7 separate regions of the Homo sapiens genome follow, and regions 1, 2, 3, 4, 5 and 7 are each linked to region 6. Evidence: fine-mapped expression QTL. A gene starts in region 6. Each other region holds a variant in brackets. All regions are shown on one strand. Distances are from middle to middle.

Evidence for each region.
Region 1: its variant is fine-mapped to the expression of GNAZ in whole blood (INTERVAL, PIP 0.99).
Region 2: its variant is fine-mapped to the expression of GNAZ in whole blood (TOPMed, PIP 0.96).
Region 3: its variant is fine-mapped to the expression of GNAZ in substantia nigra (GTEx, PIP above 0.99).
Region 4: its variant is fine-mapped to the expression of GNAZ in whole blood (TOPMed, PIP 0.97).
Region 5: its variant is fine-mapped to the expression of GNAZ in whole blood (INTERVAL, PIP above 0.99).
Region 7: its variant is fine-mapped to the expression of GNAZ in whole blood (TOPMed, PIP above 0.99). The same link has a PIP of 0.9 or more in caudate.

The regions. Positions count from the first base shown.
Region 1 is chr22:23,112,484-23,116,483 of GRCh38, forward strand. The region is part of intron 4 of RSPH14 (radial spoke head 14 homolog); the gene reads right to left. The region is part of intron 2 of GNAZ (G protein subunit alpha z); the gene reads left to right. Among named protein-coding and RNA genes, the nearest start is that of RSPH14, 28 kb to the right of the region's middle. RefSeq lists an enhancer at 301-1,204. The variant C/T (reference allele first, on the strand shown) is at 1,783.
Region 2 is chr22:23,161,082-23,165,328 of GRCh38, forward strand. It overlaps RAB36 (RAB36, member RAS oncogene family), which reads left to right. Exons shown (of 11, transcript NM_004914.5): 11 at 419-4,247. The coding sequence ends at 483. It also overlaps a transcript of RSPH14 not described here. Among named protein-coding and RNA genes, the nearest start is that of BCR, 17 kb to the right of the region's middle. The variant G/A (reference allele first, on the strand shown) is at 2,349.
Region 3 is chr22:23,092,198-23,096,197 of GRCh38, forward strand. All of the region lies in intron 4 of RSPH14 (radial spoke head 14 homolog), which reads right to left. GNAZ (G protein subunit alpha z) reads left to right here. Exons shown (of 3, transcript NM_002073.4): 2 at 3,050-4,000. The coding sequence starts at 3,499. Among named protein-coding and RNA genes, the nearest start is that of GNAZ, 24 kb to the left of the region's middle. The variant GC/G (reference allele first, on the strand shown) is at 2,203.
Region 4 is chr22:23,286,905-23,290,904 of GRCh38, forward strand. It overlaps BCR (BCR activator of RhoGEF and GTPase), which reads left to right. Exons shown (of 23, transcript NM_004327.4): 11 at 255-374; 12 at 1,193-1,268; 13 at 2,613-2,717; 14 at 3,435-3,509. LOC107985554 (a long non-coding RNA gene) reads right to left here and starts at 3,624. Exons shown (of 3, transcript XR_001755448.2): 1 at 3,310-3,624. The variant C/T (reference allele first, on the strand shown) is at 2,056.
Region 5 is chr22:23,258,478-23,262,477 of GRCh38, forward strand. BCR (BCR activator of RhoGEF and GTPase) reads left to right here. Exons shown (of 23, transcript NM_004327.4): 3 at 2,473-2,577; 4 at 2,878-3,063. It also overlaps the pseudogene RN7SL263P. Among named protein-coding and RNA genes, the nearest start is that of LINC02556, 66 kb to the right of the region's middle. The variant G/A (reference allele first, on the strand shown) is at 1,755.
Region 6 is chr22:23,068,424-23,072,423 of GRCh38, forward strand. GNAZ (G protein subunit alpha z) reads left to right here and starts at 2,096. Exons shown (of 3, transcript NM_002073.4): 1 at 2,096-2,147. All of the region lies in intron 4 of RSPH14 (radial spoke head 14 homolog), which reads right to left. RefSeq lists silencers at 1,771-1,910, 2,051-2,190 and enhancers at 2,797-3,677, 3,678-4,000.
Region 7 is chr22:23,097,781-23,101,780 of GRCh38, forward strand. The region is part of intron 4 of RSPH14 (radial spoke head 14 homolog); the gene reads right to left. All of the region lies in intron 2 of GNAZ (G protein subunit alpha z), which reads left to right. Among named protein-coding and RNA genes, the nearest start is that of GNAZ, 29 kb to the left of the region's middle. RefSeq lists an enhancer at 3,615-4,000. The variant G/C (reference allele first, on the strand shown) is at 1,548.

The DNA.
Region 1 (4,000 bases), 44 kb after region 6:
CAGGGGTATGACAGCCCTGGACACAGCAGGTCTGTGGCCACGGCAGGAGGGCGAGATGGACACTTAGCAGGAGGCTGGGCTGAGCTCCTGGTGGAGTCAGGGTGGGACTGTGGCAGGGAGACCCCCTTCTCCAGCAAGGACAGGGCCACTTCCTGAGAAATGGAGCATCGGACAAACACCAGCGGGGTGGGAATGGCAAGTGCTCAAGGTAAGCACGATGCAGCTGCGACCTGTAGACTGGCTGCAATGGGGAGCCTGGCCAGGAGAAGCCAGAGACGGACACCAAGGTCAGATCCTGAAGCACAGAAGACCCTCAGTGGGGATAGGGACCTGGCTGCAGGGAGCAAGGTGGCCAGTGTGGACCCATCAGGAAGGCAGGGGCCTGGTCTGGGGACCCCACAGCTCCAGCTGGGCAGAGCTACCCCATGCTGTGCTGTGCCATGGAATACCAGCCAAGAGACCAGGAGCAGGGAGCGTTCTGATAGGAACATCCAGCTTTCAGGTCTGACGTGGCCCATTTTACCAGAAGAAGGGGACCTGCTCTGAGCATAGCAGCCCCCTCTGCCTGGAACCTCACAGGGCTCACCTCCAGGCTAGCACCCTGCCCCTGCGGCTGACCCTGGCCAGGAAGACACATGTTAGACAGCTGGCTGGACTTGGTGCCTGCTGTGGCTGCAACTCCCCTGGGAAGACAGCTGAGTGTTCTGACGTTGGCTAAACTGCATCTTTACAACAGCTGGGGCCCCAGCGCCACCTGGCCCTGTGCCCAGGCAAGGCCCTGCTGGTCCCAGCATCCTTCTCTCCCACAGATCTTACCCCGGCTCCCACCCCAGCACTCTGGCCAGCACCGCCTCCCTGTTTCATAGTCCCATCAACCCCTCACACACTGGCTCCCAGCTGCTGCCACCACCTTGAGCTGTCTCGGATAGCCTCCTGCCCATACCCCTTTGGCCTGAGGGTAGATGTAGGCCAAGAGCTTGCACCTACAAGCTTCCCCAAAAGGGAAGTGAACTCAGGAATTCCTGATGAGGATTCCAGGACTGGCTGGGGAAGCACGGGGTTGCAAGCGAATAAGCTATTTCCTTTGCGACTGATACCATCCTTGGAGTGGATTTCCTCTGGTGCCTTCCCTGTTCCACAGCTGCAGAGGCATCTAGCACAGGGGGCCAACACCACAGGCCCCTCCACTCGGTACACCTGCCAGGACCTCGGCGCATCATCAGATGGTGGGGCCCACTCGCCCTCTCCCCACTAGAGAAGTCTGGGAATGCCTGTGTCCCAGACCCCCTCGGCAGCACTCAGGATGGCCCAGGCAGGTTGCAGAGGCTCCTGCCCACCAGGCCTGTCACACAGAGCTCTGGGAAATGGAGATGGGCAGTCAGTGCCAGCCAAGGGCAGGCACCCGCTACCGATGGAGGCATGTTGGTCACTGTGTCAGCAGTGCCCCATGTCCCTCCAGCCACACCCTGCCCAGCAGACAGGCAGCCCCACCAAGGTGTCCCCAAGCTTCCACCACAAAGGGAGGCCCAGAGGGGTGAGAGGCTTGGCCGGTACTTTGTGAAAGGTGACAGCATGAAGCTCATCTCTGTATGAAACCTCTGCCTCGGCCCCTCAGTCAGGGTGCTGCCCTCAGAGCCTGGTACTCGGTGGCCCTGGTCAGGCCTGGTGGCTCAGCTGCAGGCTGGGTGGCCGCAGGGCTGGCCTGTCCATGGTGAATGGAGCGCATTCATGTCTACAACCCCGCCCCACAGCTCTGCTCTCGGCGTGAAAAAGCTGAATTCA[C/T]GGTTCGGATGAACACTCCCAGCTTTTCTACAGTGGGCTGACTTGAGCTTCTCAGTCTGTAACAGAACTGAGGACTTGCTCTACAGATGAGGAAACTGAGGCCCAGGGTGGGACAGACCGGCCCCGGCCCCACCCTTCCCAGCAATGCGGCTGCATCCCCATGCCTCTGTGCCTCTGCCAGCCCCTCCTGCAATGCCTTCCCTTCCCCTCAGCCCCCAGAGGTCCAGTCAAAACGTCCTGCTCTTGTATTACCCCTCGCCCCCTGCATTCCTGTGGTGTGTCACCTGTCAGAGTTGTAGCTGGCCAGCACTATCTGCAGCAGTGCCAGCTGCTCACAGTCACTTGTGCCTGGGTGTGGGGACTAAGCTGTCCATGTGTATCCCACATCAGCCCTCAGCCCCCTCACGAGGGAAGTATGCTTACATATTCTGTGTGTGTGTGGTTATTTTTTTGGAGGGGGGACAGGTTCAGAACAGCTGGCAGAGCAGGAGGTTGGGCCTGCATTGGCCACTCCGCAGCTGCCACACCGGCTCCAGCATTCCCTCCTGCCTGTCCTCACCCACCTTGTTGAGAGCAAGGCTGTCTGCTTGCCTCCATCCCTCACACAAGAGCACCTGGAGAGCCTCTGCCCAGGGAGGTGAGGAAAGGGAGAGGGCAGTGGGGACTGCCATGAAGGCATCTCAGAAGCTGGCAGGGCTGGGGGTTCCAGGTCATCTGTGTCCCAGGGATGATGCTGGTTCCAGGAAGAGCTGAAACCTTAATGTCACGTGCATTTTATGTGAGGTTTGAGGCCCCTAGTTGGGCCAGCTGGCCTTGCTCTGTGCTGTGGCCACAGCAAACTGCATGGGGTCCTGTGGAGTAAGGGACCTAGTGGAGAGTGAGTGGACAGGGAGACCAGATGGGTCAGTACAGAGCCTTCCCCAGCCATGTGGCCATATCACACTGGCATCACCCACCTATTCCCCAATACAACACAGTCCGGGGGCCCCTCACCTGGCTGAGGTATGTGACAAGGCTCTGAGCTGATGGTGTACGTTCAGCCTGAGTAGGTGTTTGCATGTGGTTGCCCCCAAACCAGTGTGATTTGGGGCTGCATGGATCCAGAGTAGGGAGGTGACGGTCCCACCATCTCTGGGGTGTGTGCAAGGGTCAGGGTTTGGGAAGGGGTTGGACAAGACCAGTGTCCCTGAGGACTGCCTACCTGCTGGGAGCTGACATGGGAATCTGGGAGTGCGTCTGGCCTCCTGGAGGGGGTCTCGGGTTGCCCAGAGGGGAGCGAGGAGGAGGCCCAGAACATACCCCTTCCTAGAACAGGAAGGTGGGGTGACCCTGCAGGGTGGCCTCCCACACCTCAGTGATGCCTCGGTGACCCCTAAGGCAGAAGATGCGTGAAGCAGGCATGAGGCCCTGAGCACTGCTGGCCACCCCTGCAAATGGAGGGGCCCCACCTGAAGTTGGGGGCCGGGGCTCATGTTTGAGCCATTTTGACTGGGTCTTTTTCAGTTTATTTTCTAAACCTCAGTTTATTTGAAGCACAGTACATGATTGCTCACTTCAGGAAATTCTGTTCAAGTTTTCCTAGCAGAGTTACTCATTCCTTCATCTGTGCAAGGGGAGGGTGGTGGTCATAATCACCACCCTGATCCCCCTACCCCCTGGGCCCTGTGTGAAGATGACAAGGCAGTGCGGTTGGCTGAGGGCCTGGGCCAGGCCAAGCACACCAGGAAGGTGCCGCGCATGTGCCAGATGGGCCCTGAGGCCGCTGGGGTCCCACAGCAAACAACAAAACAGTCAAACAGGTGCCAGCCTCTGTCATGTGCTCACCACGTGCCCAGGACCACGTCTGTGTGTGCGTTTGCCTGGGTAAGCCTTGCTTCGTGAAGCTGCCATGACCTCCGTCTCCTCACTGAGGGGCACAGGGCAACAGGCTGCCAGGTGAGGGGCTGAGGGGCCTTCTGGGGGCCACTGGCCTACTCGAGGCACAGTGAGTTGTGGGAACGAGGAGTAACTTGGAGGTGGAGCTGCGGGTGCAGAGGGAAAAAGACACCTGGGTCATGAAGGGCTGGCCTGTCCGCCTGAGGGGCCCAGAAGTGCAGTGAGGGGATGACGTGGCTACGCGCCTGTGACAGGGCACCTGAGGACATTTGCAGTGCAGGAGGGAGAGCGCTTCAGAGCAGGCCAGTGTCCCTCCCACCCGGCCCAGTCCCTGGTCCCTGGG
Region 2 (4,247 bases), 93 kb after region 6:
TTGCCATTTCCTGAACTTGTGGCCCTCTCCTGTCCTTTGACCCTCCTCTCAGGGTGTCACTGCAGCCTCAGGCCTGTAGCCCCTCTGATTCCACCTGCCAGGTCAGACACCCTCCCTAGCCCTCCCTGTTCTCCTGACACATGGACCTCATGGGCATCCATGAGGTCCTCATAGCCCAGGCTGGGCGTCCCAGGCTCTGCAGATGTGTCCTGGCCCCGGCTCTCCCAGTCTGCACCTTTGCCCTCTCTGTTCCAGTGCCTGGAAGGCCCTCTCTTGGCTTGTGTCAGGCCATTCAGGCCTTGAACAGCAGGCCCAGAAGCTTCAGCTCACAGCTCTGACTGTCAGGGCCGGCATCCCCTGCCCAGTGTCAGCTACAGGATTCCTGGTTGATGCTAAATTACTTCTCCCCTCCTTACAGAAATGGAAGGGAGTCCGCCCGAGACCCAGGAGAGCAAGAGGCCCTCCAGCCTGGGCTGCTGCTAACTGGGGCCTGCGTGGAAGGCCTCCGCTCCCTGCACACACACGGACAGGAATTTCCGTGACTGTGGTGTGGAGACTGGAGCCCAAGCTCTGCAGCGTGTCGCCCTCAAGCTGTAGGCCCATGTTCCAGTCCCTCCACCCACCCACCGGGCTCAGCTCCAGGGCACAGTCACTTGTCCGTTGCAGGTTGGGCACTAGAAAAGGCCCCCACTGGCTGCCTGGGAGCCCCACACCACCGGGCCAGTGCAGGCACTGTGGTGATCCCATAAAAGGCCAGTCCATTTGCAGGGTCATCAGACAGTCACCTTTGGCCTCAAGAGGCCTCAGAACTGCAAACTCCTGCGTCGGTCTATACTACTCGGCCATGGCCCACATCAGCAGTCAACCCTGCACTCTTTCCCAGCGATCTTGGATGTGTCCCCAGGATCCGTCACAGTGTTCCAGGCAACCTGGACTTGTCAAAGTCAGCACCTGAAGGAGAGGCCACCTGCCATTCCCCCTGGGAGTTTTCTGTTGTCAGCAGGACTTATGGTTCTGGGTCTCAGAGCTTCAGGCCTCACTGTCCTTCTGCCACGGATGCTCAAGGTTCCTGGGCAGACCAGCACCTCTGGAGGACAATGGACAAAATGTCTCTTAGACCTGTTCTGGCTGAAGGGCTATCTCTGGCACCTCTGAGATCCCTAGGTCCTGCCCTCCTGGTCCGTGGGCCAGGATGTGCAGAACAACCACTCAGGCCTTTCTGGCCCACCTGGACAGTGCATTTACCTGTGTGCTGCGGGAGGCAGACTGCACAGCTGTCCTAGGGTAACTCACTCTGCAGCCCTTGAACATGGCACTGCCCTCCTCTGGCACTCATGCTGGGCCTGTGCCCACTGCTGCCTCTCCATCCCTCTCTCATTGGCCTATACATCTCTTAGGACCTTTGTAATGGTGTCCATGCACCTTTAGAGGACTTCAGAGGCCCTGCCAAGTCTAGCATGTTCCTGTCTCCAACACCGCCTCCTGCACATGCAGAGCAGACAGAAATACCCCACACATTCCCCAGCCTCTCTGCCCAGTATGCTCATCCACAGGGTTTTCTCACTGCTATGAACCAGCCCCACAGCCCCAGGCCCCTGTCACCTGGCTATGCCCACTCATCCCACCCGTCTCGTGCTGTTGCTTCCCGTAGATGGCGAGCACCTTGCAGGCAGCCTTCTGATCAGTACTGCTCTCCTAGGGCCTGGCACACTGCAGCTGCCCTGTAAATGTTCAGCTCAGCGATTGCCAAATACCAGTTAGGGAAGAACACTGGCATCTTTTTCTATTCATTCCCCCTTCAACATATTTTTTGTAGTTTTTTATATAAATGACTTTTTTTTTTTTTTGAGATGGAGTTTCACCCTTGTTGCCCAGGCTGGAGTGCAATGGCGTAATCTCGGCTCAGTGCAACCTCTGCCTCCCAGGTTGAAGCGATTCTCCTGCCTCAGCCTCCCAAGTAGCTGGGATTACAGGCATGCACCACCATGCCTGGCTAATTTTGTATTTTTAGTAGAGATGGGGTTTCTCCATGTTGGTCAGGCTGCTCTCGGACTCCTGATCTCAGGTGACCTGCCCACCTCGGCCTCCCGAAGTGCTGGGATTACAAGGGTGAGCCACCATGCCCGGCCATAAATGATTTTATTCATTTTTATGTTTTCTTTTGGGCGGCGGGATGGAGTCTCTGTCACCCAGGCTGGCGTGCAATGGCACGATCTTGGCTCACTGCAAGCTTCCCCTTCCGGGTTCATGCCATTCTCCTGCCTCAGCCTCCCGAGTAGCTGGGACTACAGGCACGTGTGACCATGCCGGGCTAATTTTTTATATTTTTAGTAGAGAGAGGTTTCACC[G/A]TGTTAGCCAGGATGGTCTCGATGATCTGACCTCGTGATCTGCCCGCCTCGGCCTCCCAAAGTGCTGGGATTACAGGCCTGAGCCACCGCGTCCGGCCTCCATAAATGACTTTTAAAGGGGTTGTATGTTTAGTGTGAACAAAGACAGTACAAAGCATATAAAATACAAGGTGAAAGCCCCCCCCCCGCCACATTAGCTGCGCCCCTGAAGTGTCTCCAGCAGAAGAGATGGATGAATGGAAGGACACACAGATGGACAGAGAGCAGGAAAGACTGTTAGCTCTGCTAACAGTCAGGACTATTCCTTCTGGACTCTGTGCCTTTGCCTGCACAGCTAGTGTTGATGGCTTGTTTGTTGTTTTCACCAGAGTGAGCTCCTTCTGGACATACTGCCTGGCAGCCTGCCTTCCTAGGGAGCTGGCGCCAAGGCCTCTCCCTGATGGCACACAAGGAGCCTCCTTCCTGTAGCAGCGCCCAGTTTTCATGTGGATGGATTGTAGTTCATTTGACCCTCCCCATCCGCGGGCCATCCGGCTTGTGTCCAGCTTTTAGCTCTTGCCAATGGTGCTGCAGTGGCCATTCTTGTAGTTATAGCTTTGCGTACTCAGGAAGGCCCTTCTCCCGACTGCGGCCCCCAGCCTGGTCCACTAAATGCAGCCTGTGGTCGGGCAGACAGCATTGGGGTCCATTAGGAAGACCAGGTTTGCTGGGCATAAGCTTCACAGGACGGGAGAACCTGCCCATGGTGGACTGTCGTTCTCCACAGCTCCCTTCCCTTGCCCCTTCGGGCCTCCAGGATATGTTTGCGGGGGTGGGTGTGGTGTCCAGCTGTTACCAGCTTCTGAGCTAGAGCTGTACTGCCTCACGTACACCCCCACCTCTGTAAATGGTCCTTGATTAAATCGTCCTCATATTACCTCCTGCAATGTGCCAGCTGATTCCCACACACCCTGACTGACATAGTTGTGGCCTCTCGAACTTTGATATTTGGCCTGGGAGGACAGAAGAGTAAGGTCGCCACGGAAACGCAAGGGGCTCAGTTGTCCCCCCACCCCAAGTTGATGCAGCATCTTCTCGGTCAGAATTGCTTCAGGGTGGTTTGCGCACCCTCACTTTGATGATTTAATGAAGACATTTCCTTCTTTCCCAGCATCGGGCAGTAAGTTTCCTGGGCAGAGGCACTTTCTGTTGGTCTGGTCTTGTGGGCCCAGGCAAGCAGCCCCCTGCAGCCAAGGTGCGGCAATGACCACAGTGACCGCGTCCAAGTGCTGCCGAAACGCCTTTTTCCTCTTCCCTGTTTCCCTGGACCCTTTCCTGCTCTCTGTCCATCTGTGTGTCCTTCCGTTCACCTGTCTCTTCTGCTGGAGACACGTACCTGAAGCAGGTCCTCTCCTGTCACTTCCTGGCTCCCCAGGGCTAGGTCCCAGGGTGCTCTCGCTCTGGCTTTCGAGGCTCCTCACCACCCAGCCCACCCCACCCCCACAGGCCCCTGTGCTCCAGTTTCATCCCTGGTCACAATGCAGTCTGCAGATGCCAGACCCCTCTTCTGTGCCCAACGGCTGGGACACCCCTACTCCCAGAGAGGCCTCTGTGGACACCCCCACAGCTCTCGCAGCACTTGATACCTTGAGTGTGATTGGTCACATCTGGGCTTTCTCCCCCACCCATCTGTGGAACCCCAAGAGCCAGGACAGTGACCTCATCACCTCTACTGTCTCCCCTAGCACCTCTGGGAGGAAGGGCCCACAGTAGGTGCTCAATAGATGTGTAAAGAAGGCAGGGAAGCAAGAAGGTTGCTCAAACAAGACCATGTTCCCAGCAGACAGATTGCACTCTGACCCAGATGCCACCACACGAAACTTACACCTGCCTGGGGAACAATCCTGTGCTTGGCTCTCC
Region 3 (4,000 bases), 24 kb after region 6:
CAGTAAAGCCCGGGTTAGACTCAGAGAGAGGGCTGGCTAGAGCCTTGTGTAAGAGCCAAGAAGTCAAGCCTCAGAATAGGTGGGACTGTCATAAGGTCCCATTTGAACCACAGCCAGGCTCCCAACGCAAGGCTTCCTTACATCCGTGCACAGCCCTGTCCCATGCGTGGTGCCCCTGCACAGGGCGCTCATACCCCCAAACACAACACAGCCCCACAGAGCCGCAGGGAGAATTCTGGGTGGGGCCTTCTGCTTGTTTGGTTCAGGTGATCTGAAAGACGAGGGTCCTCAAGCAGGGGACCTCCCCTTGGTTGTGACTGTTCGTCACTGCCCCATGCAGGTGACAGACTTGGCCCTGATGCATGTGATTGCTACCTGGCCTCAGTTTCCCCTTTCCTTGCACATTGCCCTGTCGTTGCCGGCGCACACTGATCGAAGACTGCATGAGCAGCCCTTAGCTCCAGGCTTCCAGACAACAGCAGTTCAGGGCCCAGGCTGCCAGCCCAGTGTCCCCAACCTGCTCTCCTGATTCCCCAGCCTTGGAGCCAGGGAGCACATACATCCCAAAGCACAAATCACACATCCTTGGACAGAGCAGCTTCTCTGCCCACCACTGGGGACAGAAGGGGCGCCTGGCTGTACCTCAGATTTTCAAACGTGGAATTGAGAAGAACAGTCATGACAACAGAGGACACCTCCCACTGGGTTGGACACTGCCTTCTGAAAGGAGCATGTTGGCTTCCTGCTGGAATGATGGTGCTGGTAGGGAGAACCCTGGGTCCCCAGGCAGTGGGCTGAGGGCTTTGGACACCTTTCCACACCTAAGGGGCTGTCAGGTCGTCAGCAGGGACAAGGGAGCAGCCACAGGGTCTCCATCCTCCATGCGCTCATGGTTCGTGTGCATATTACACATATCATGTACATGTCATCTTTAAGCAGATGTTCTGCCCACTGTGTGCTGGAGTGGGAGGGTCATCTCAAGGCTTCCATTCTCAGATGTAATTTTCAGCCTCACTGGGATTGGGCTGAGTGACTGTTTAATCACTGCCCTCTTGGCAGAGATGTTTCTAGGGCGTTCCCTGGTGCACTTCTCATCGGTGGCTGCCTGGTGAAGCGGGAAAGTTCCTCAGCCTCTCCATTGATTCCTTCCCTCCCTCCCTCCTTCCACCAACCAGTGCTTACTGAACACCCACTGTGCACTGGGCACTGCTCTGTTCCCAGTGGGGAACGAGGCCAGGACGGGCCCTCCTCACCCGCACTCTGGCTGGGGGTAGGGGCGACGGCAGCACACAAGGTCATGTAGGTCACACATTAGCTGAGGGCTGCTATGGAGGAGGAGGACAGAGGGCAAGGTGACGCTCACAGCGACAAGCACAGCAGGGCAGTGACTGCTACTGGCTGTCACTCTCTGAGGACCAGGCTTGTGCTGGACGCTTTACTCTTCACAGATACCTGTGGCCAGTGAGGGACAGGCTCTGAGATGGGAGTAAGTCGCCAGAGGCCACACAACCTGGGAGAGGCAAGCAAGGCATGAAGGATGAGACCACCCTGAGAGTGGTGGGGGTAATATCAGGGTCTGACCAAGGGAAAGAGGCGGCATTAGAGCCTCTGGCTGTCAGAGGCTGGCAGGGCTAGGGAGCAGGTGTGAGAGGCCACCACCACTGCCAGGAGAGACCAGAACCTCTGCCCAGGGAGAGGACAGCCCACCAGGGGCCTGCTTCAAAGCAGGATCGCCAGGACTAGTGGTCAAGGTCTGTGAGGGGCAAGGGACAGTGAGGGGCACGGATGGCTGCTGGGAGGATGAAGTGCCATTTGCTGAGGGTTTAGCAGGTTGAGTTTCAGATGCTGGTCACACCCAGGAGTTGAGGGTGGGGCCTTGGCTGTTGGGGTCTCTCTGCCTCGGGCCTTCCCACCCCAGGGCCTGTCACAGAGTTGATGGGTGGTATTAAAGGGGCGAATGCTGCCTGTGGCAGGATGGGGAGGCTGCGTGGGTCTCCGGACAGGGACATAGGTCAGGGAAGGAGCAAGAGGGGTGCGTGTGAGTTGGGTGGGGCCTGGTGCCACCCTGGGCTCACAGCCGGGGAAGAAGCCTGAGCTTTGAGCTGCCCCTCGTGTGGGGAGGCCTGGCCTAAGCACCCGGCAAAGTCACAGGGGCATCCTAGGGTGTGCCCCTCCCTGCTGGCAGGAAAGGTGGATGGGGAG[GC/G]CCTGACTCGCGGGGTTGGTGAAAGATTCTGCCTGAGGCCTCTAGGCCACCCTGCCTTGCCCTGGCCTCGGTGATTACTACTACCCTTGGGAGCCACTGTGACATCTGGTCTCCCAGGTGGATTTCCCCGCAGCACCACGTGCAGCCCCCAGCTCCTTGGTCTCAGCCCAAGCCCCCCTCTACCTCCTTCTGCAGGAGTGAGGCAGCCCCTGCCCACTGTGCTTAGGCACCTCACGGTGCTCCCACAGCCTGAAGCCTCCACCTTGCTCTGGTCCCTGCCTATCTGCTGGCTCCTGGGCTGGCCCATCAGAGTGCCCTCAAGGGAAAGCAGGGGCCAGGTCTCCCTCCTGGTGCTTTTCCTCCCTGTGATCAGAAGTGACCCAGCTCCTGCGGGGGTAATGAGAGTCAGGGAGGCGCTCAGTTATCCCAGGGCTGGGCCGAGGCCTGGCCACCCGTGTAAAACAGGGCAAGGCTGAGCTCTATCAGTGCTGTCTGGGAGAAGGGCCCCAGGGGGCATCACAACAGGGTGACCTTATTGAATCCTAACTGGATGCGGTAGAAGTGAGTCCAGCATGGGGGCTGGGTGGGCAGAGGCCTCGCACACACCCTCCTCTCCCTCATGCACCTGGCTTCAGGTGGACTGTCCAGGCAACAGCAGACATATGTGTTACACCATGGTGTGGGCCCTACAGCGCCCCATGGAGGAGAGGGGGTTGGATGGATTGTTGCCGGCTCATTTTCCAAGGCCAGTCTCTGCTGCTTTGCTTTCAGAAGAGCTCCCTTTCACTGTCCAGCCTGAGGTGGGGCTGCGGGGAGGAGGCTCACGCTTTTCTCTGTGTTTGGCAGGTGAAGGGCTGGATGCACAGTGGGAGCCGGAGGCGGGGGGCTGCAGGGAGCACACCAGCGACCGGCCCTCCAACCCTCCAGCCACTCAGCAACATCGCCACAGCAACCAGCAACCAGACGGCAGCAGCCGAGGCAAACACAAGCGGACGGCTTCCCACCGTCGCCGAGGACAGGGAATGACTACGGCAAATCAGGCCACTTTGCCAACTAGGGAGGTGGAGTGTCACTAGTGGGGAGGGGCGGCCACCGCCCGCTGCACAGAGCGCCATGCCGGCTGGAGAAGAGGCGCTGGGGCAGGGGCTGCAGTGTGGCTCGGCCTCACCCCCCTGCTGGCACTGAGTGCCTCCAGGGCAGCTGGGCTCTTGTCTGCCTGGTCTCAGTGTCCCCTGTGGCAAGAGGGAGAGGTGCCCCATCCCGTGCTCCTTGTCTGGGCCCGCTGCTGCCAGACCATGGGATGTCGGCAAAGCTCAGAGGAAAAAGAAGCAGCCCGGCGGTCCCGGAGAATTGACCGCCACCTGCGCTCAGAGAGCCAGCGGCAACGCCGCGAAATCAAGCTGCTCCTGCTGGGCACCAGCAACTCAGGCAAGAGCACCATCGTCAAACAGATGAAGATCATCCACAGCGGCGGCTTCAACCTGGAGGCCTGCAAGGAGTACAAGCCCCTCATCATCTACAATGCCATCGACTCGCTGACCCGCATCATCCGGGCCCTGGCCGCCCTCAGGATCGACTTCCACAACCCCGACCGCGCCTACGACGCTGTGCAGCTCTTTGCGCTGACGGGCCCCGCTGAGAGCAAGGGCGAGATCACACCCGAGCTGCTGGGTGTCATGCGACGGCTCTGGGCCGACCCAGGGGCACAGGCCTGCTTCAGCCGCTCCAGCGAGTACCACCTGGAGGACAACGCGGCCTACTACCTGAACGACCTGGAGCGCATCGCCGCAGCTGACT
Region 4 (4,000 bases), 220 kb after region 6:
ACTTAATTCCTCCAAAAAAGGTTTACTGAGCATGTCCTGCAGCTTATGCCATGCCTTGACCCTGTAAAAAAGCTGTTTCTGTCCTCCAGAGGCCACCAGCAACTGCGGTCTGGGGCCCTGGTCTGTGCTGAGTGGAGAGATGGGATTCTTGCCCTCTGCAGGCTGAATGCAGCTGGTGGTGGGGATGGATGGAATGGGAGTGGGTTGTGTGGAGCGCTGGAATGGGAAGGTGAGGCTGTGGCATCTCCCCACAGAGGGCGAACAAGGGCAGCAAGGCTACGGAGAGGCTGAAGAAGAAGCTGTCGGAGCAGGAGTCACTGCTGCTGCTTATGTCTCCCAGCATGGCCTTCAGGGTGCACAGCCGCAACGGCAAGGTGAGCGCCTGCTGTTCCGGCCCCTCCTGCTCTCCTGGCCTGGGATGGGCTCCTGGTTGCCTAATGGCAGTGCGTTTTCACTTGGATGCGCCCCACTCTGAGAGAGGCATGTCCGGCATGGTGCATGCAAGCACGCACATTCCTTTGTCTGGGGCTTTGGGCTGTAGCCCCCAGGTTGAGTGGCAGCTGGCTCAGCTCCCACAGCTGGGAGTGGACAGGGTCTCCAGGGAGGGTATAGGGCAGGGGAGCCTAGCAGGTTTGTGCAGATCTGGCCCTTGGTACAGGGATGCTGTCCTGGGGCCTTGAGGGCCAGAGACACACCTTCTGTCCTGAGTCTGGCTCCTGCTGCCATCTGTAACCTGGGCCTCTCCCTCCTGTCAATACATGTCTGTCAATGTCCAGAATGGCTTGTTTTCTAGCCTGACCAGGAGAGGCAGCTGGTGGGCTCTGCAGAAGCCTCACCTCTGGGCTAGTGTGGGGCTTGTGAATTGAATGCAGGAGGTCAGGTCTGGATCAACGTTCACCTCTGCAGATCCCACCTGGTTACCTCCATGTCCCTAAGCTGTGCCCCTCTGCCAGCATCACACCCTGACCCATGTAGTTCGGGTGAGAGATGGTGTGCCAGAGGTGCTGTGGCACCCAGCTGGCAGGAAGGGTAGGGAGTGCCGGAAGCGACATGCCAGGCCGTGAGCACACCTGGCCACTGGGCTCCAGCCGGCTGGAGATACGAGTTGTGTGCTCTAAGGTGCCCCGGGCCTACCAGGCATTTGCGTAGCCAGGGCGGAGATAACTGGGTGTGTTCTTCTTGCCCACCCTAGAGTTACACGTTCCTGATCTCCTCTGACTATGAGCGTGCAGAGTGGAGGGAGAACATCCGGGAGCAGCAGAAGAAGTGTGAGTATCCTCTGTCCTGAGAGGGGCTGGGCTTCAAACCATTAGGGCCAGGCTGGCAGCTCCTGTGGTTTTAAACCTTCTTTTTTATTTCGAGGGGTTTTATCCAAGTGAAGTGTTGCATGGAGGGCTAATTTAGAAAAGAAGTTGGCGACAGCCATCCCGATAGGCCCCCAGCCCTCTTGTTCCCCTGCCAGCCTATCCTGCCCCCATCACCTGGGCACTCATTTCCCCACTGCCCTGTGATCCCCTGTGAATCCCCCTTCCCCAGGCCCTTTCCAGATTCCACACCTGCCCCTACACACACCCCTGCCATCTCCCCCTAGTCTGCTGCCCATACACCGCACCCCCGGCCTGCCCCCTAGTCCTTTCTGGGACCCTGCCACCACCCCATTTTCTTGGCCTCCCCCATTTCTCCTCATCTACTCCCCGCCCCCTGGGCCTTCCCTGCCCCAGCAGGTGCTGATGCTAAAGGGGCCTTTGGCTGGGCCCACTTGGGCATTCACACTGTGCTGGCCCCACTGCCCTGTTCATATGGCCGGGGTTGCCCGCTCTCAGCTCAGGGGCGCTCCCTCCTGTCTGGGGCAGCCCCTTCCTTCTCTGGGCACTTCCCTCTGTCAGGGCGCTCCTTCCTTCGGGTCCTGCCTGGCAGTGTCGGTGGGGAAGGCAGACCCGGTTCCCTCCTTGGAGGTTTGGGATTCACCCTGAGCTGGGGCTCTGCATGCCTCTGGCCTGGCCTGACCTCCCGCGCCCTCAGGCTCATCATTCTCACCTATGCAGAGCCACCTCT[C/T]GGCCCCCAATGCCACCGTGGCCTGGGGGATCAAGGATCTCCGGGCAGCCCTGCCAGTGCTTGTGTCCCAGGGTTTCCTGTCATAACATAGGAGCCCCAGCCATTTCCAGAGTGGCAGCCTCTGTTCCCTGTTCAGCATTATGCCCAGAAATAAGCCCCTTTTCCTCACCTGGTGGAGAAACGGGGGCCTGTGTTAGCAGAGGACGGGCAGAGCCATGCTGCTGTCTGTATGGGGAGACCTCACAGGGAGGTGCTCCCAGTCCAGCCACTCATTCTCAGACCTGCCTTGTGGCTGTGCTTAGGTAGCGTGGGATGTGTGTGTTTGTAAGTCTCATGCTAAGACTCCTCCAGGCCTGGGCTCTCCAGGGCCACACCTCACTCTGCCGCCAGACCAGCACTGCACTTGAGAGCCAAGTGCCCTCTCCTGAGCCCCCAAGCCCTGGCACCAGTTCTTGCCGTGCCCCTTCCCCAGGGTGTGTGGTGGAGGTCCAGTGGGAGGGGCCAGAGGGCCAAGGAGCAGATTGACCAATTGGTGCACCTCTTTTCCAACCTCCCAGGTTTCAGAAGCTTCTCCCTGACATCCGTGGAGCTGCAGATGCTGACCAACTCGTGTGTGAAACTCCAGACTGTCCACAGCATTCCGCTGACCATCAATAAGGAAGGTGGGCCCCCCCGTTTCCGTGTACAGGGCACCTGCAGGGAGGGCAGGCAGCTAGCCTGAAGGCTGATCCCCCCTTCCTGTTAGCACTTTTGATGGGACTAGTGGACTTTGGTTCAGAAGGAAGAGCTATGCTTGTTAGGGCCTCTTGTCTCCTCCCAGGAGTGGACAAGGTGGGTTAGGAGCAGTTTCTCCCTGAGTGGCTGCTGCTGGGTGGTTGAGGAGATGCACGGCTTCTGTTCCTAGTCACAAGGCTGCAGCAGACGCTCCTCAGATGCTCTGTGCCTTGGATCTGGCCCCACTCCCGTCCTCCCAGCCCTCCTCTCCTCCAGCTACCTGCCAGCCGGCACTTTTGGTCAAGCTGTTTTGCATTCACTGTTGCACATATGCTCAGTCACACACACAGCATACGCTATGCACATGTGTCCACACACACCCCACCCACATCCCACATCACCCCGACCCCCTCTGCTGTCCTTGGAACCTTATTACACTTCGAGTCACTGGTTTGCCTGTATTGTGAAACCAGCTGGATCCTGAGATCCCCAAGACAGAAATCATGATGAGTATGTTTTTGGCCCATGACACTGGCTTACCTTGTGCCAGGCAGATGGCAGCCACACAGTGTCCACCGGATGGTTGATTTTGAAGCAGAGTTAGCTTGTCACCTGCCTCCCTTTCCCGGGACAACAGAAGCTGACCTCTTTGATCTCTTGCGCAGATGATGAGTCTCCGGGGCTCTATGGGTTTCTGAATGTCATCGTCCACTCAGCCACTGGATTTAAGCAGAGTTCAAGTAAGTACTGGTTTGGGGAGGAGGGTTGCAGCGGCCGAGCCAGGGTCTCCACCCAGGAAGGACTCATCGGGCAGGGTGTGGGGAAACAGGGAGGTTGTTCAGATGACCACGGGACACCTTTGACCCTGGCCGCTGTGGAGTGTTTGTGCTGGTTGATGCCTTCTGGGTGTGGAATTGTTTTTCCCGGAGTGGCCTCTGCCCTCTCCCCTAGCCTGTCTCAGATCCTGGGAGCTGGTGAGCTGCCCCCTGCAGGTGGATCGAGTAATTGCAGGGGTTTGGCAAGGACTTTGACAGACATCCCCAGGGGTGCCCGGGAGTGTGGGGTCCAAGCCAGGAGGGCTGTCAGCAGTGCACCTTCACCCCACAGCAGAGCAGATTTGGCTGCTCTGTCGAGCTGGATGGATACTACTTTTTTTTTCCTTTCCCTCTAAGTGGGGGTCTCCCCCAGCTACTGGAGCTGTCAGAACAGTGAAGGCTGGTAACACATGAGT
Region 5 (4,000 bases), 190 kb after region 6:
GAAATAGGACAGCAGGGTTGGGAGTAGGCAGGGGCTGTGCTGGGACCCTGATTCCAAATTCTACAGATACCATGAGGCCTGAGCTGACCTCAGTCAGATCCTTCCTCAAACCCATCAGTTCTCACTGGAGGTGATTCTGCTCCCAGGGCATGTGTGGCAGCGCCTGGAGACATTGTGGCTGCCACACCTCGGGGGAGAGGGTGTTACTCACATACGATAGGTAGAGGCAAGGATGCTGCACAGAATCCTGCAAGGCACAGGATGCCACCCAGCCCCTGACAGAGACTCCTCCGGGCCTAGATGTCAGCGGGGCCAACGAGAAGCCTGCCCGCAGCCAGTGATTTTCCCCGAAAGTGGGAAAGTGAGTGATCAGGGACCACCGCCCCAGTTCCACGCCTGTGAGCCCAGCAACCAGTGGAGAAGTGGACGGGGCTGTCACAGACACCGGACCTGGCACCACCCCCACCCCCCGCACCCACACACTTTCCTCTGACTGCAGGCAGGGCCATTGGGCACAGGCGGAACAAAGGGAGCACGGCCTCAGCCCGGTGGAGCACTGAGGTGCTGCCATGGGCATGGCCAGCCTCCAACATTGCCAGTGGCCAGGGAGTAGGCGGGAGTGGCCAGGAAGTCAGGTGGCGATTTCTGTGGCCTTTGGCATCATCATCTTTGGTGTCATGCCTTTGCTGGGACTGTTGTAACAAAGCATCACAGACTGGGGGGCTTAAAGAACAGGAGTTTATTTTCTCCTAGTCCTGGAGGCCTGAAATCCAAGATCAAGGGGTGGGCAGGGTTGGTTTCTTCTCGGGCCCCTCTCCTGGGCTTGTCTTCTCTATGTGTCTTCACATAATGTTCCCTCCATTTGAGTCTGTGTCCTGACCTCTTCTTTTACAAGCACCCCAGTCCTGGTGGGGTAACATGGCTCATGCCTGTAATCCCACCACTCTGGGAGTTTGAGGTAGAAGGACCGCTTGAGCTCAGGAGTTTGAGACCAGCCTGGGCAACATGACAAGACCTTGTTTCTATTACCAAAAAAAAAATTTTTTTTTTTTTTTTGAGATGGAGTTTCGCTCTTGTTGCCCAGGCTGGAGTGCCACAGCATGGTCTCGGCTCACTGCAACCTCCCCCTCCTGTGTTCAGGCAATTCTCCTGCCTCTGCCTCCCAAGTAGTGGGGATTATAGGTGCCCGCCACCACACCCGGCTAATTTTTGTATTTTTAGTAGAGACGGGGTTTCACCATGTTGGCCAAGGCTGGTGATCTCGAACTCCTGGCCTCAGGTGATCTGCCCGCCTCGGCCTCCCAAACTGCTGGGATTACAGGCGTGAGACATTGAGCCTGGACCCCCCAAAAATGTTTAAGTTAGCAGAGCGAGGTGGTGGGTGCATGAGGTCCCAGCTACTTGGGAGGCTCAGATGGGAGGATGACTTGAGCCTGGGCTCTCAAGGCTGCAGTAAGCTGTGACTGTGCCACAGCGCTCCAGCCTGAGCGACAGAGTGAGACATCGTCTCAAAAAAAACAAAAAAGAATGTGACATATGGAACCTTTTGGCTTCAGTTTACCTTAAAGGCCCTGCCTTCAGATACGGTAACGTTCTAAGGTACTGGGGGTTAGGGCTTCCACGTGAATTTGAGTGGGGAGGGGAGATGTTATCATAACTAGGACTAGAAGGTGGCCTCCCAGGGGCATGGGCTCTGTCCCCTACATCAACATCCAACAATGTGTCAGCTTCATCATTTGGAGACAAAAACAGTA[G/A]AGCTTCCCTGAACTTTCAGCAGGGACGCTAATGAGAAGGGGGGACTTTGTCATAGCCCACATGTAAGAGGGTCCCTGCCAGTCCAGTGATGTCAGGGTCTAAAAAGCAGGGTCAGGGGACACAGGCCTTGAGCCCCAGGGACAGGGTTCTTCTGGGGCAGATGGTAGCAGTCCCTGTGGCTGGGAGGGAGGGCATCTGGAGAAGGCGGTGCTGCCTGGGCCCCGTCAATCGAAGGGTCATGTGGCGGCAGCAGTCAGAGAATCCAGGTGAGGCGGGCCCCAGGTGAGCAGTGGGGAGTGGAGTTTGGCTGCAGCAGAAGCCAGGTGGCCATGCTGTGGGCTCTGACGCCCCCTCAGGTCAGAGCCTCCTTCTCCTTCCCTGACTGTGTCAGGCAGCTGCCCTTGGGTTGCATGCAGAAGCGTGGAGGGAGGCCTGGCCCAGCCTGCTCCGCACCAAACTCTGTTTCGTGGTCTGGCAAGAGTAAGGGTGGCCCTGGTGTTGCCAGATGACCCCCCTCCCCGGGATTCTCAGTGACTGTGAGTGTGTGGCTTAGTATGTGCGGAGGGTCCCCTGCCTCCCTTTAATTCCATGTGGAGCCTTTGTGGGGGCAGGGGTTTGTCCAGAGGTCAACAAGCTGGCCCTCCTCTCTCAGAGGGCCCTGATGGAAGAATCCCCCTACCACCCTTCCAGGCTGACTTCTGTCTATTTCTCCTGCAGAGTGAGCTGGACTTGGAAAAGGGCTTGGAGATGAGAAAATGGGTCCTGTCGGGAATCCTGGCTAGCGAGGAGACTTACCTGAGCCACCTGGAGGCACTGCTGCTGGTGAGGAGGATTTAGGGAGCTGAGCAGGGCGGGATGGGGCAGGGTGACAGGGTTGGGGAGCCTCTTTGCCCTTAAGTCCCAGGTCAGCTGTCAGAGCCTGGGTGCAGCTCGCCATCCCTGGAGTGGATACCAGTGGAAGACTGAGTTGCCAAACCAAGCTGGTTTTAAAATTGTATTTGTTATGTGATTTAAAAATAAAAGTGCATATGTCAGGTAACCATGACTGTCTACTGCCATACAATGCACCTGACGGATGGCAGCCCCTCTCACCTGTGCTACCTCACTTGTGCCCTCTTCCAGCCCATGAAGCCTTTGAAAGCCGCTGCCACCACCTCTCAGCCGGTGCTGACGAGTCAGCAGATCGAGACCATCTTCTTCAAAGTGCCTGAGCTCTACGAGATCCACAAGGAGTTCTATGATGGGCTCTTCCCCCGCGTGCAGCAGTGGAGCCACCAGCAGCGGGTGGGCGACCTCTTCCAGAAGCTGGTGAGTAACCCAGGGCCGGTGCTGGGACTACAGGCGTGTACCACCACGTCCAGCTAATTTTTTGCATTTTTAGTAGAGACAGGGTTTTGCTATGTTGGCCAGGCTGGTCTCAAACTCCTAACCTCAAGTGATCCACCTGCCTCAGCCTCCCAAAGTACTGAGATTACAGGCGTGAGCCGCCATGCCCAGCCTTTTTTTTTTTTTTTCTAATTTATATTTATTTAGATAGTTATTTTTAAAAAGAGATGGGGACTTACTACGTTGTCCAGGCTGGAGTGCAGTGGCTATTCACAGGCGCAATTCCACTGCTCATCAGCACGGGAGTTTTGACCTCCTTCCTTTCCAACCTTGGCTGTTTCACTCCTTCTTAGGCAAACTGATGGTTCCCGACTCCTGGGAGGTCACCATATTGATGCCAAACTTAGTGTGTAGTGCACTACAGCCCAGAACTCCTGACTGAAGCCATCCTCCGGCCTCAGCCTTCCGCGTAGCTGGGGCTATAGGTGCACGCCACCACACCCTGTGTGTGGCTGGGACTACAGGTGCACGCCATCACACCCTGTGTGCGCCATCACACCCTGTGTGCACCATCACACCCTGTGTGCACACACTTTCCCTAAAGCAGGCTTCCTCCGCTGGGAAACAAGTCCTCTAGGGGCAGGTGTGGCCAGAGGCCAGGCCCCCCTCTAAGTGTGAAGAGCATGTGATTCCTTAAAAGCCCTTCCCCCAGCACTTCTGGACTACCGAGACACACAGCTCTGGCCTCGGGCCTCCCCTTGGCTGGTGCTGGGGGCTGAGTTTTCTGCTCTGAGGTGTGGCTTTCCTGTAGGGGGACCCCTCCCTCTGCCACCCTGTGCTGCAGACCCCCAGACTCCAGGCCAGAGCTAAGGCTTGAGGAACACAGAAGGCACTTAATTTGTTCCAGTTCTTGCTCCCT
Region 6 (4,000 bases):
GGTCTGAATCCTAGAACTGTGCCTACAACTATACCCTGGTGGAGGAGGCTATCTGTAAGTGACTGCTGCATGAATACAATATTGGTTTGATGCCAGGTGAGATGTCCCTCTCTTACTTTGAGGTCAAGTCAGGGAGGTGTCAGCCAGCCCCAGTGGACCCCTCCGCAGGCTAGCCTCTGCTCTGGACCACTGGAAAGGGCCATCTCACTGTTGCATGTGGGCTTACCTCTGCAAACAATTCAACTCTGACCCCCAGACTCTGCAGTGGAAACAGCCTCTGGCTATCCCAAGACATGCTAATATGCATTTCCTATAAACATTAACCCTCAGAGCCACCCTCTGACCACAGTCTGTTACATTCCCTTTTGACAGAAGAGGAAACAGAGGCTCAGCCAGGTAGCACAGCTGCCGGTCTCTGTGTGGTCCTCCTGGCAAGAGGTCCAGCCTGACACAGCCTGGTGGTGTGGAAGGCAAGCACAAAGGGTAGCTAGCCCCTCAGCCATTGGCTGAATTCCCTTGGTCCTCACTGGACACCTCCAGTGAGCACTAAGTTCGCCTCCATGATGCCCATAACAAATATACGTCCTGTTCCTGACAGTTGAGGCAGCACCCTCACAGGTGGCCCATGACCCTGCAGGTACGTAACGCAATGGTCTCCATCTCACAGAAGAGGAAACATTCCTAGGGAGGTTATGGGATGATGCTGAGATGCCACAGTGTCCAGCTGGCAAAGCCAGGCACATGCCCCTGCCCCTCCACCACAGAGCTATGATGGAGAGACCGCTCCATGGACCTCTGCCATGGTCAGGTCCAGGGCTGCTGCTCAAAGAATGGCATGATCCACACCTTACAAAGGTGTGAGGTGATAAGGAACGCGTTAGCTGGGAAGGCATTTGCACTTTGTCAGGGATGCTCTAGGATACACAAAGCTTCAGATTTACAAAGATGGAGAAGAGAGACAGGAGCATTCATGTCTTGGCCCTCTGGCTTGAGAGTCTTTTAAGCATGGAACTGAGGGACTCCTGGCCCTGAGGTCCACAGATAGGCTTTGAAATTGAAAACAGAATTTTGCAGCCTGGGTTCAGCTGCGTTTTGCTGAGGGTCTGATGCTTTCCACCAGCTTCCCAAAAGCGCCAATCAGTGGCCTTAACTGAACTGGCTCTCTCACGCTTGTCTGGGCTGGGGGCCAGCTCCTCGGTCCTTCTCCCTTCCTTCCCTCCCAAGGCCACCCTTCCGTGTGCCAGGATTGCCAGGGACGCCAAAGAGCCCCTAGACACTGGGCGGTGGCGGCGGGGGGCGGCGGCAGAGATGACTAATGCTCCCTCCCATCGCTGCACAAACCTCACCGGTGTAAATCGTTAGGGTTTGCATAGGCCTTTCACACGTTCTGAAGGATTGGTGAGACAATCCAGGAAAGCAGGTGCCACTAGCCCCACTTTGCAAACAGAAAGGCTGAGAGAGGTCAGTCGGTTGCCCAAGGACGTAGAGCTCACAAGAGGCCGAACTGGGTTTGAACCCGAGTGGAGAGAAGGCGAGCCGGGACTGGCTGCAGTAAAGAGGGCCAGGACCATGGCTGGGCTCAGGCTTGGTTTCCCGGGCTGCCAGAGGTGGCCCCTGGGGCTCGGCTACCAGGCCTCAGCGCAGCGGAGTCGGTGGAACGCCGGCGCGGGGAGCTCTTGCGGGACTGCGGCGCGCGCGGAGCTGCGACCCCGCCCCTGTCCGTCCCCATTGGGCTACTGGCCCGTCCGTCAGCTGCCTGTGCCCAATGGACAGAGGGCCGGCGCTCGTGGCGGGGCGGAGGTGCCCGGCGCGTGGTGCCCGGCGGGCGCGCGGCACCCCCCCGCCCGCGGTTGGCCTGGCAACGGGCTGCGCTCGCGGCTCCGCCCCCTGCCGGCGGCGGCGCGGCGCGGGGCGGGCGGACCCGCGGACTGGCGGCGGGCGGCGGGCGGCGGGCGGCGCGGGAGGGCGGGCGGAGGGAACCAGGCCGGCCGGAGCGTGTGCGCCGCCCGCGGTCCGGTCACGTCCCCGCGTGGGCGCCGCTGCCCGCGTCGTACGGAACGAGGGCGCCGCGGCCCCGTGCTCGCCGCCCCGCCCCGCCCCGCCCTGCCCGGAGCAGCTCGGCAGATGCTCTGTGCTGCGGCCCGGAGGTGAGTGAGCCGACCCGCGGCCGGCCGCGCGCCGCTGAGCCTCAGGGGTCGGGGGCACGGCCGGGGCATCCACCTTGCCCCCACTTGGGACTCTTCCCAGGCCTTTGTGCCCCGGATCCGCCAGGACGCAGCGTCAGGGATGCCCCTCAGGGGTGGGGGACACCAAGGGCGGGGACGCCTGCGAGGTGGGCAGGGGGCGGCCTCTGGTCGGGCAGGTGCTGGGGGAGGGATGCGCCGCCAAGCCGATGACCCCGCGGGAGGGGGCGGTTGAGGACCCGGGAGGGTGGACAGAGGGCGCCGGGGATGCCGCGCGGGGCCGCCGGGCGCCCCCAAGCAGCGGCTGATGCGGAGCCCGGGCGGGCCAGGCGAGCTGCGGGAGCGGCGCTGAGGCGGGTCTCCCTAGGGGGAGGATCAGGGAGGGGCGGCCGGAGCCGATGCAGGGCCTTGCCTGAAACCGAGGAGAGGGCCCCAGAGGCCTGGGCCCGAGGACCTGGGCCCGCAGACGGACAGCTAGCAGTTCTCGGTCACTGCTCTTGCAGCGAGCAGGTTCCTCACAGGCATTTAGAGGAAGAGATGAGTATCGACCTGCTGCGATTGTAATACGTTCCCGGCTCAATATTTTTTCCCTTAAAAGGCGGTGGGGGTGTTTGGGGGAGGGGAGTGAGGGCCTCAGGGCTGGCGCTCCGTATCCTGCGGGCGATCCGAGGGGGCTCTGCCTTTAGGGCGGTGCTGAGCCTTCCTGGGTGATGATGGCAGGATTCGGCCTAGGCCGAGAATGGGGGCTCCTGTTAACTGAGACAAGAGGATGATGCCAAGCGAGACCAGCGTTCCGCGTAGTCCGTGTTGGGGTGGAGGGACCCGCCTGGTAGAGAGGTCTGTCTTGCTTGGGGAGACAGCTGAGCCCCTGACCGGCTCCTTTCTGCCCAAGTGATTTCCCTGCCCTGGGGATTGAGCTCTCTGGAGAAGGCTCCTTGGCCAAATTCAATTAAGCAAATATTTATTGAGTGGTCACTCCCCCAGAGCTTGACGCTGGGGTGCACCGGGTGGGAGTGGACTGGGCCTGCCCTCCCAGGACTGATTGACCACCGCATAGGGGAAAACGTCTCTACTCGACCAACCCCGCTTGAGTGCAGGTGCAGGGGCCTCGGGAGGGACCTCAGAGTGGTGTCCTGGGCTGGGGGGTCAGGTGAGCTCGTGGGCAACATGACATTTGAACTGGAGCTTGAAGGACATGGGCACAGCTAAGCTGGGCATTGTGGGCAGAGAGGAGAGAATAGACCGAGGCACTTGGGCAGTTAGGTCTGATGGGAGCACTTAGCATGCCTGGGGAGTAGGAGGAGGTATGGCGGGAAAGGCCGGTGGGGGCTGCACGGGGCTGAGGGAGCTGGGAAGTGGAATGACCCCACTGCTGGTTAACTGTGGCTATGGTGGAGACCACGGCTTCCTCATCTGTAAAAGCGAAGCAGTTCCATGACCCCATGAGCTGGGGTGGGCCTGGAGAAGAGCTAGCTTTAAAGACTGGGGAAGGCTCCTTGCAGTCTGAGACTGTGCTTCCAGGCACTTCTCCCTCGGGCACAGCCAGGGCACTGGGTAACCACCCAGGCAACCCCCTTGTTAGGATTGAGTTGCCTGTTTCGGGGATGATGCTTAGCTAGTGACTCTGTGCCTCTGGGATGTGGATGTTTGAGAGCAGTAATCGTGGCAGCCTGGGAGCATCCATCTACGGGGTGCAGTGGGGGTGTGGATGGCCTGGCGGTGCTTGGATAAAATATGCGCCTTGAGCAAGCCTCATTCTCTAGGAATGAGGAGATGCTGGCATCTGGTTTAAAAGTCTTCCTGTGTGTTCCTCTAAC
Region 7 (4,000 bases), 29 kb after region 6:
AGCTGCAAGGCAAAGTGAGGTGCTCAGGCCAGACCCTTGGGACAGTGCCATGGTGGGTCTGCCAGTCACACGGGCTTGCGCCACTGGCCTCACCCATCACCACAGTGGCAGGCGTGGCAAATTCCCCGGGCACCAGGCCTGGCTCCCAGTTGCATCCTTTGACAGGCCGTGCCCACAGGTGTGCTGGACACAGGAGGCAGGATACCTGGGTCCTGAGTCAGTCCAGTTTTTCATGGAGGGCTTTGGCTGTCATGTTTGCTTTCTGAACTTGTCAGTGAGGAGATGACCCAGGTGTCTTCACAGATGGGCCCAAGGCTAGGCCTTTGCCTGCCTGCAGCCCTCTTGGCTCTTACTGGCCTGTGCCTGCCACCTTGCTGCCTCTCTCTCCTCTCCTTCTGCTCTAGCCGTGGTCAGCTTGTTTTGCTCCAGCAGTACTGCTCTGTCCAGCCTTAAGCTTGTAATGATCCTGATCCCTGCCTCTCGTACCCCTGCCCTTATCCTCCAGGTCTCATCCCAAGTGGCGCCTCCTGGGAGGCCTTTTCTGACCTAGCCCGGCACCTGCTTACTCCTCCATCTAGTGATGTGTGAGTGAGCTCCTCGGGGCAGGCCCTAGATGGGCTGGGTGGCCCCTGTGGGGCCTCACATCTCTAGCTTTCCCTCTCCCAGGCCTGTCCCTGGGGAGAGCCATGGTGGGCAGCCATGGGCAGGGACAGCAGCCACTGGCCTGGTCTCAGGGATCCCTGTGAGGTTCCAGGCATTCAAGGCACTTTCTAAAGGGAGGGGCTGGCAGCCAGGCTGGCACACCCACCACCATCACCCTGGTTTCTGCAGGCCTGGGGAAGTGGTTGTTCACCAGAAAAGGAAATTCTTGATGAGAAACCCAAGCGAGGCTGGAAATTCACTGGATTCCAAATGATTCTGACCTTTCATGCTCTACCAGTAATATCTGGAGATGGAAAACAAACAGGCTGCAGAGGAAAGACAATCCCCTCCCGCGATTCCTCCCGCAGGCTGGGCTGGCCCCGGAGGTGAGCTGGCCCCCAGAGTGGTGCCGGCAGTGAGGACAGCCCGTCTCCAGCCGGGCCAGGGCCAGAGCCAGTGCTGGCACGGGCTGGCACAGGGCTGCCACTCTGCTCTCTCCTTTTGGAACGTGCTGAACTGTCCTCCCTGGGCCCTGTCAAAGGCAAGGCAGCCAAGAACAGGCCATGCTCGTTTTCACAAAAGCCGAATGAACCTTGGGGCCCAGTGCCAGGGCTCTGGACACGGCTCCTCCATAGCCCTCCTTCCGTGCTCAGCTTCCAAGGCCTCATCTTCCCTGATGCTGGCAGTGCCTCCCCACCCCCACGCCTGGCGAAGGAGCCACAGCCCCCCGGCCCACCCGCTGGCTTCTGCGTCAGCACGTTGCCAAGGAGAACGTCAGTGTCTCTGGGCTCCCGGGTGTGAGGGCTGCAGTGAGTGCAGGGCAGCACCTCAGAGCAGGGAAGGCAGATTTCCGGGTGTCTGTGGAGCATGGCAGCGAGCCACATGGGGAGCCACGCCCCTCCATG[G/C]CCACGGTTCCCACCCTCGTCCGAAGGAATTGGCAGTCCCTTGCCCTGACTAGGGCCAAGTCCTGCAGGTGTGTCAGGCACCCCAGTGCCCCCAAGCCCAACACCCAGCTGGGGCTTCCTCAGGCAGCACAGGAGGCCTGAACACAGCCCAGCAACACAAGGGGGTTTTTCTGGCGCACCTGTCCCCTGAATGATCCTGTGGGGCAGCAGCGCCTGTTATTTTTGTCACAGATCGAGGCACTGAGGCTCAGGCACACAGCTGGCGCTGGCGGGCCCCCAGCCCTCAAGTCCACAAGGACAGCTCCTGAGAGGCCATGTGTCACAGGACCCACCACGGGCCTCCCACTTAGCCAGAGCCATGGCAGAGGCTCTGCCCCTCGTCTTTAGTACATTCACACAAGGGTCAGTCAGCAAAGACAGTCACTCTGCTGCCCTAGGAGGGAAAGGCAAAGTGGAGAAGCTGGCACCTACCAGCCCACACTGAGGGACAGACACAGGTGGCTGTGACCAGCAGAGCCTGGGTCTTCACTCGGCCCCACTGGAGGCACCTGAGGGGGTAGGTGGGCACTTGTTGCCCAACCTCTGCCCTTGCGGATCAGCTAATGGACTCTGCTGGCCACCAAATGGTGTGGGATCCTTCAGAAGGCAAGATTAAAAGGTCTAGTTGTAAAGCATCAAATGTTCTCATGTGGAAACCCACAGGGAGCTCACTGCCCATTTCCCGACGGAGCTGTCAGCATTCCCAGCCCTGTGGCGGGTCTGTTTTGCACCTGTGATGGACCTGCTGTGCAGGCTCAAGGCTCAGGCTGGGGCCAAGTATGAGGGTGAGCACAACTCTCCCAGCAGCACAGGGAACTGGGGGACAAGGAGGAGGCAGTCACACCAGCCCAGCTACAGCTTCATTTCCACAAAGCCTCTGCTACCAGGGATACCTGCCCTGTCTTTCTAGAGCTGGCAGGCAGCAGTTCCCAGCAGTGTCCCCATTGTGCTTTCATCTAGGACCCACAGTAGTCACTTGGGCCCCACAGGCAGGCTGGGTCACAGCAGGGTTCACCGTGGGAGGCCTGGTGTCTCTGCCACTTATCTGAGAGACAGCTGGTCAACATGTTATCAGTGAGGGTATCCAGGGGACGGGGGACATAAGAACATGCCTTTTGTGGGGCAAGTTCTGCAGGTGGCAAGTGCTTGAGCAGCCAGCCTCCAGGCAGGTGGTCTATGCCTGGCCCTGGATAGTGGTCCCTTGTCCTGGGGCCATTGGCTTCCTGAGGAACCCCTCCCCACTCCAGGGCAGGTCAGCAGCCTCAGCACACCACGAGGGCAGGTCCACACCCACCCGGCACAGCCTGTGCTCTGAGCAGAGGGCCTGGCACACAGTGGGTGCTCTGCAGACTTTGTGGAGCGGGCGGGAGGCGGTAGGCTTGGGAAGAGCTGGAGCTCCAGAGCCCTGGCTTCTGGGTGCAGAGCAGCTGGGACACTCAGCCCTTCCCAAGGAGACCCTATGGGTGCTCGTCCATAACAGGAGTGTATGCAGTACCCTGAGGAGGGGCTGCCCAAGGCCGTCCTGTGAACACAGCGTGTTCCTGCCACCCTAGCGCTGTGGTTTATCATTTAGCCCAAAAAGGGTGCTTGTTTTAGTGCTTTTAAAATGGAGTTTAAACATTTGTGCCATAAAATGGCGTGTTGTGGGTGAAACAAGGTGTTTCCAGTAAGACAGGCTTATACCTATTGATGACAGAGCTGGTTATATTTGCCCAAGGAGGGAATTACAAATGGGCAATAGCCAGACACAGATGATACCCTCTCCCCAGCATACCAGGGCTTAGATTGAGAAGGGACCTTATATATCCTTTAGTGTTCCTAACCAGCCGGCTTTGCAGATGAGGAAACTGAGCCTCAGAGAGGTTCCTTCACATACCGCAGGGCTGAGACTCTGGCTCTCAGGGAGGGTCCTGGCACTGGCCCCTGGGAATTCCAGTGGCCCCCCTCTTCACCATACTGGTCCCACATCCTGTGGGTGCTGGGGTTCTCCAGCAAGGGCCTTGGGGGTATAGACTGGGTTCCACCCTTGGAGCTGCTGTGTAGCCAGCCTTCCCTCAGGAGAGTGGAGGACAGTGACACCTGGGCTTGGGAGAGGTGAGTGGCTGTGAAGGTTGACACTCCCCTCGTCCCCTTGTCTCCTGGCCTAGTCAGTGGCAGGACCACAGGGAGCCCTAGCAGAACATGGCCTCACTCTGCCTCCTGTTCCTGACCTGGTCAAGGGCATAGCTCCAAGCCAGAAGGCCTGCCGCCCTTTTCCCGACACACACAGGTCTCCCAAGCAGTTCCTTCTGATCTTGCAATGTGCCAGGGCCACATGCAGTTTGTCTGCAGCATCCTCAAGTTATCATGACCCTGGAACAGCAGAGCCTCCTGACCAGATCCAGAGGCAGGGCCAGGCTGGCACACTGGGCTCC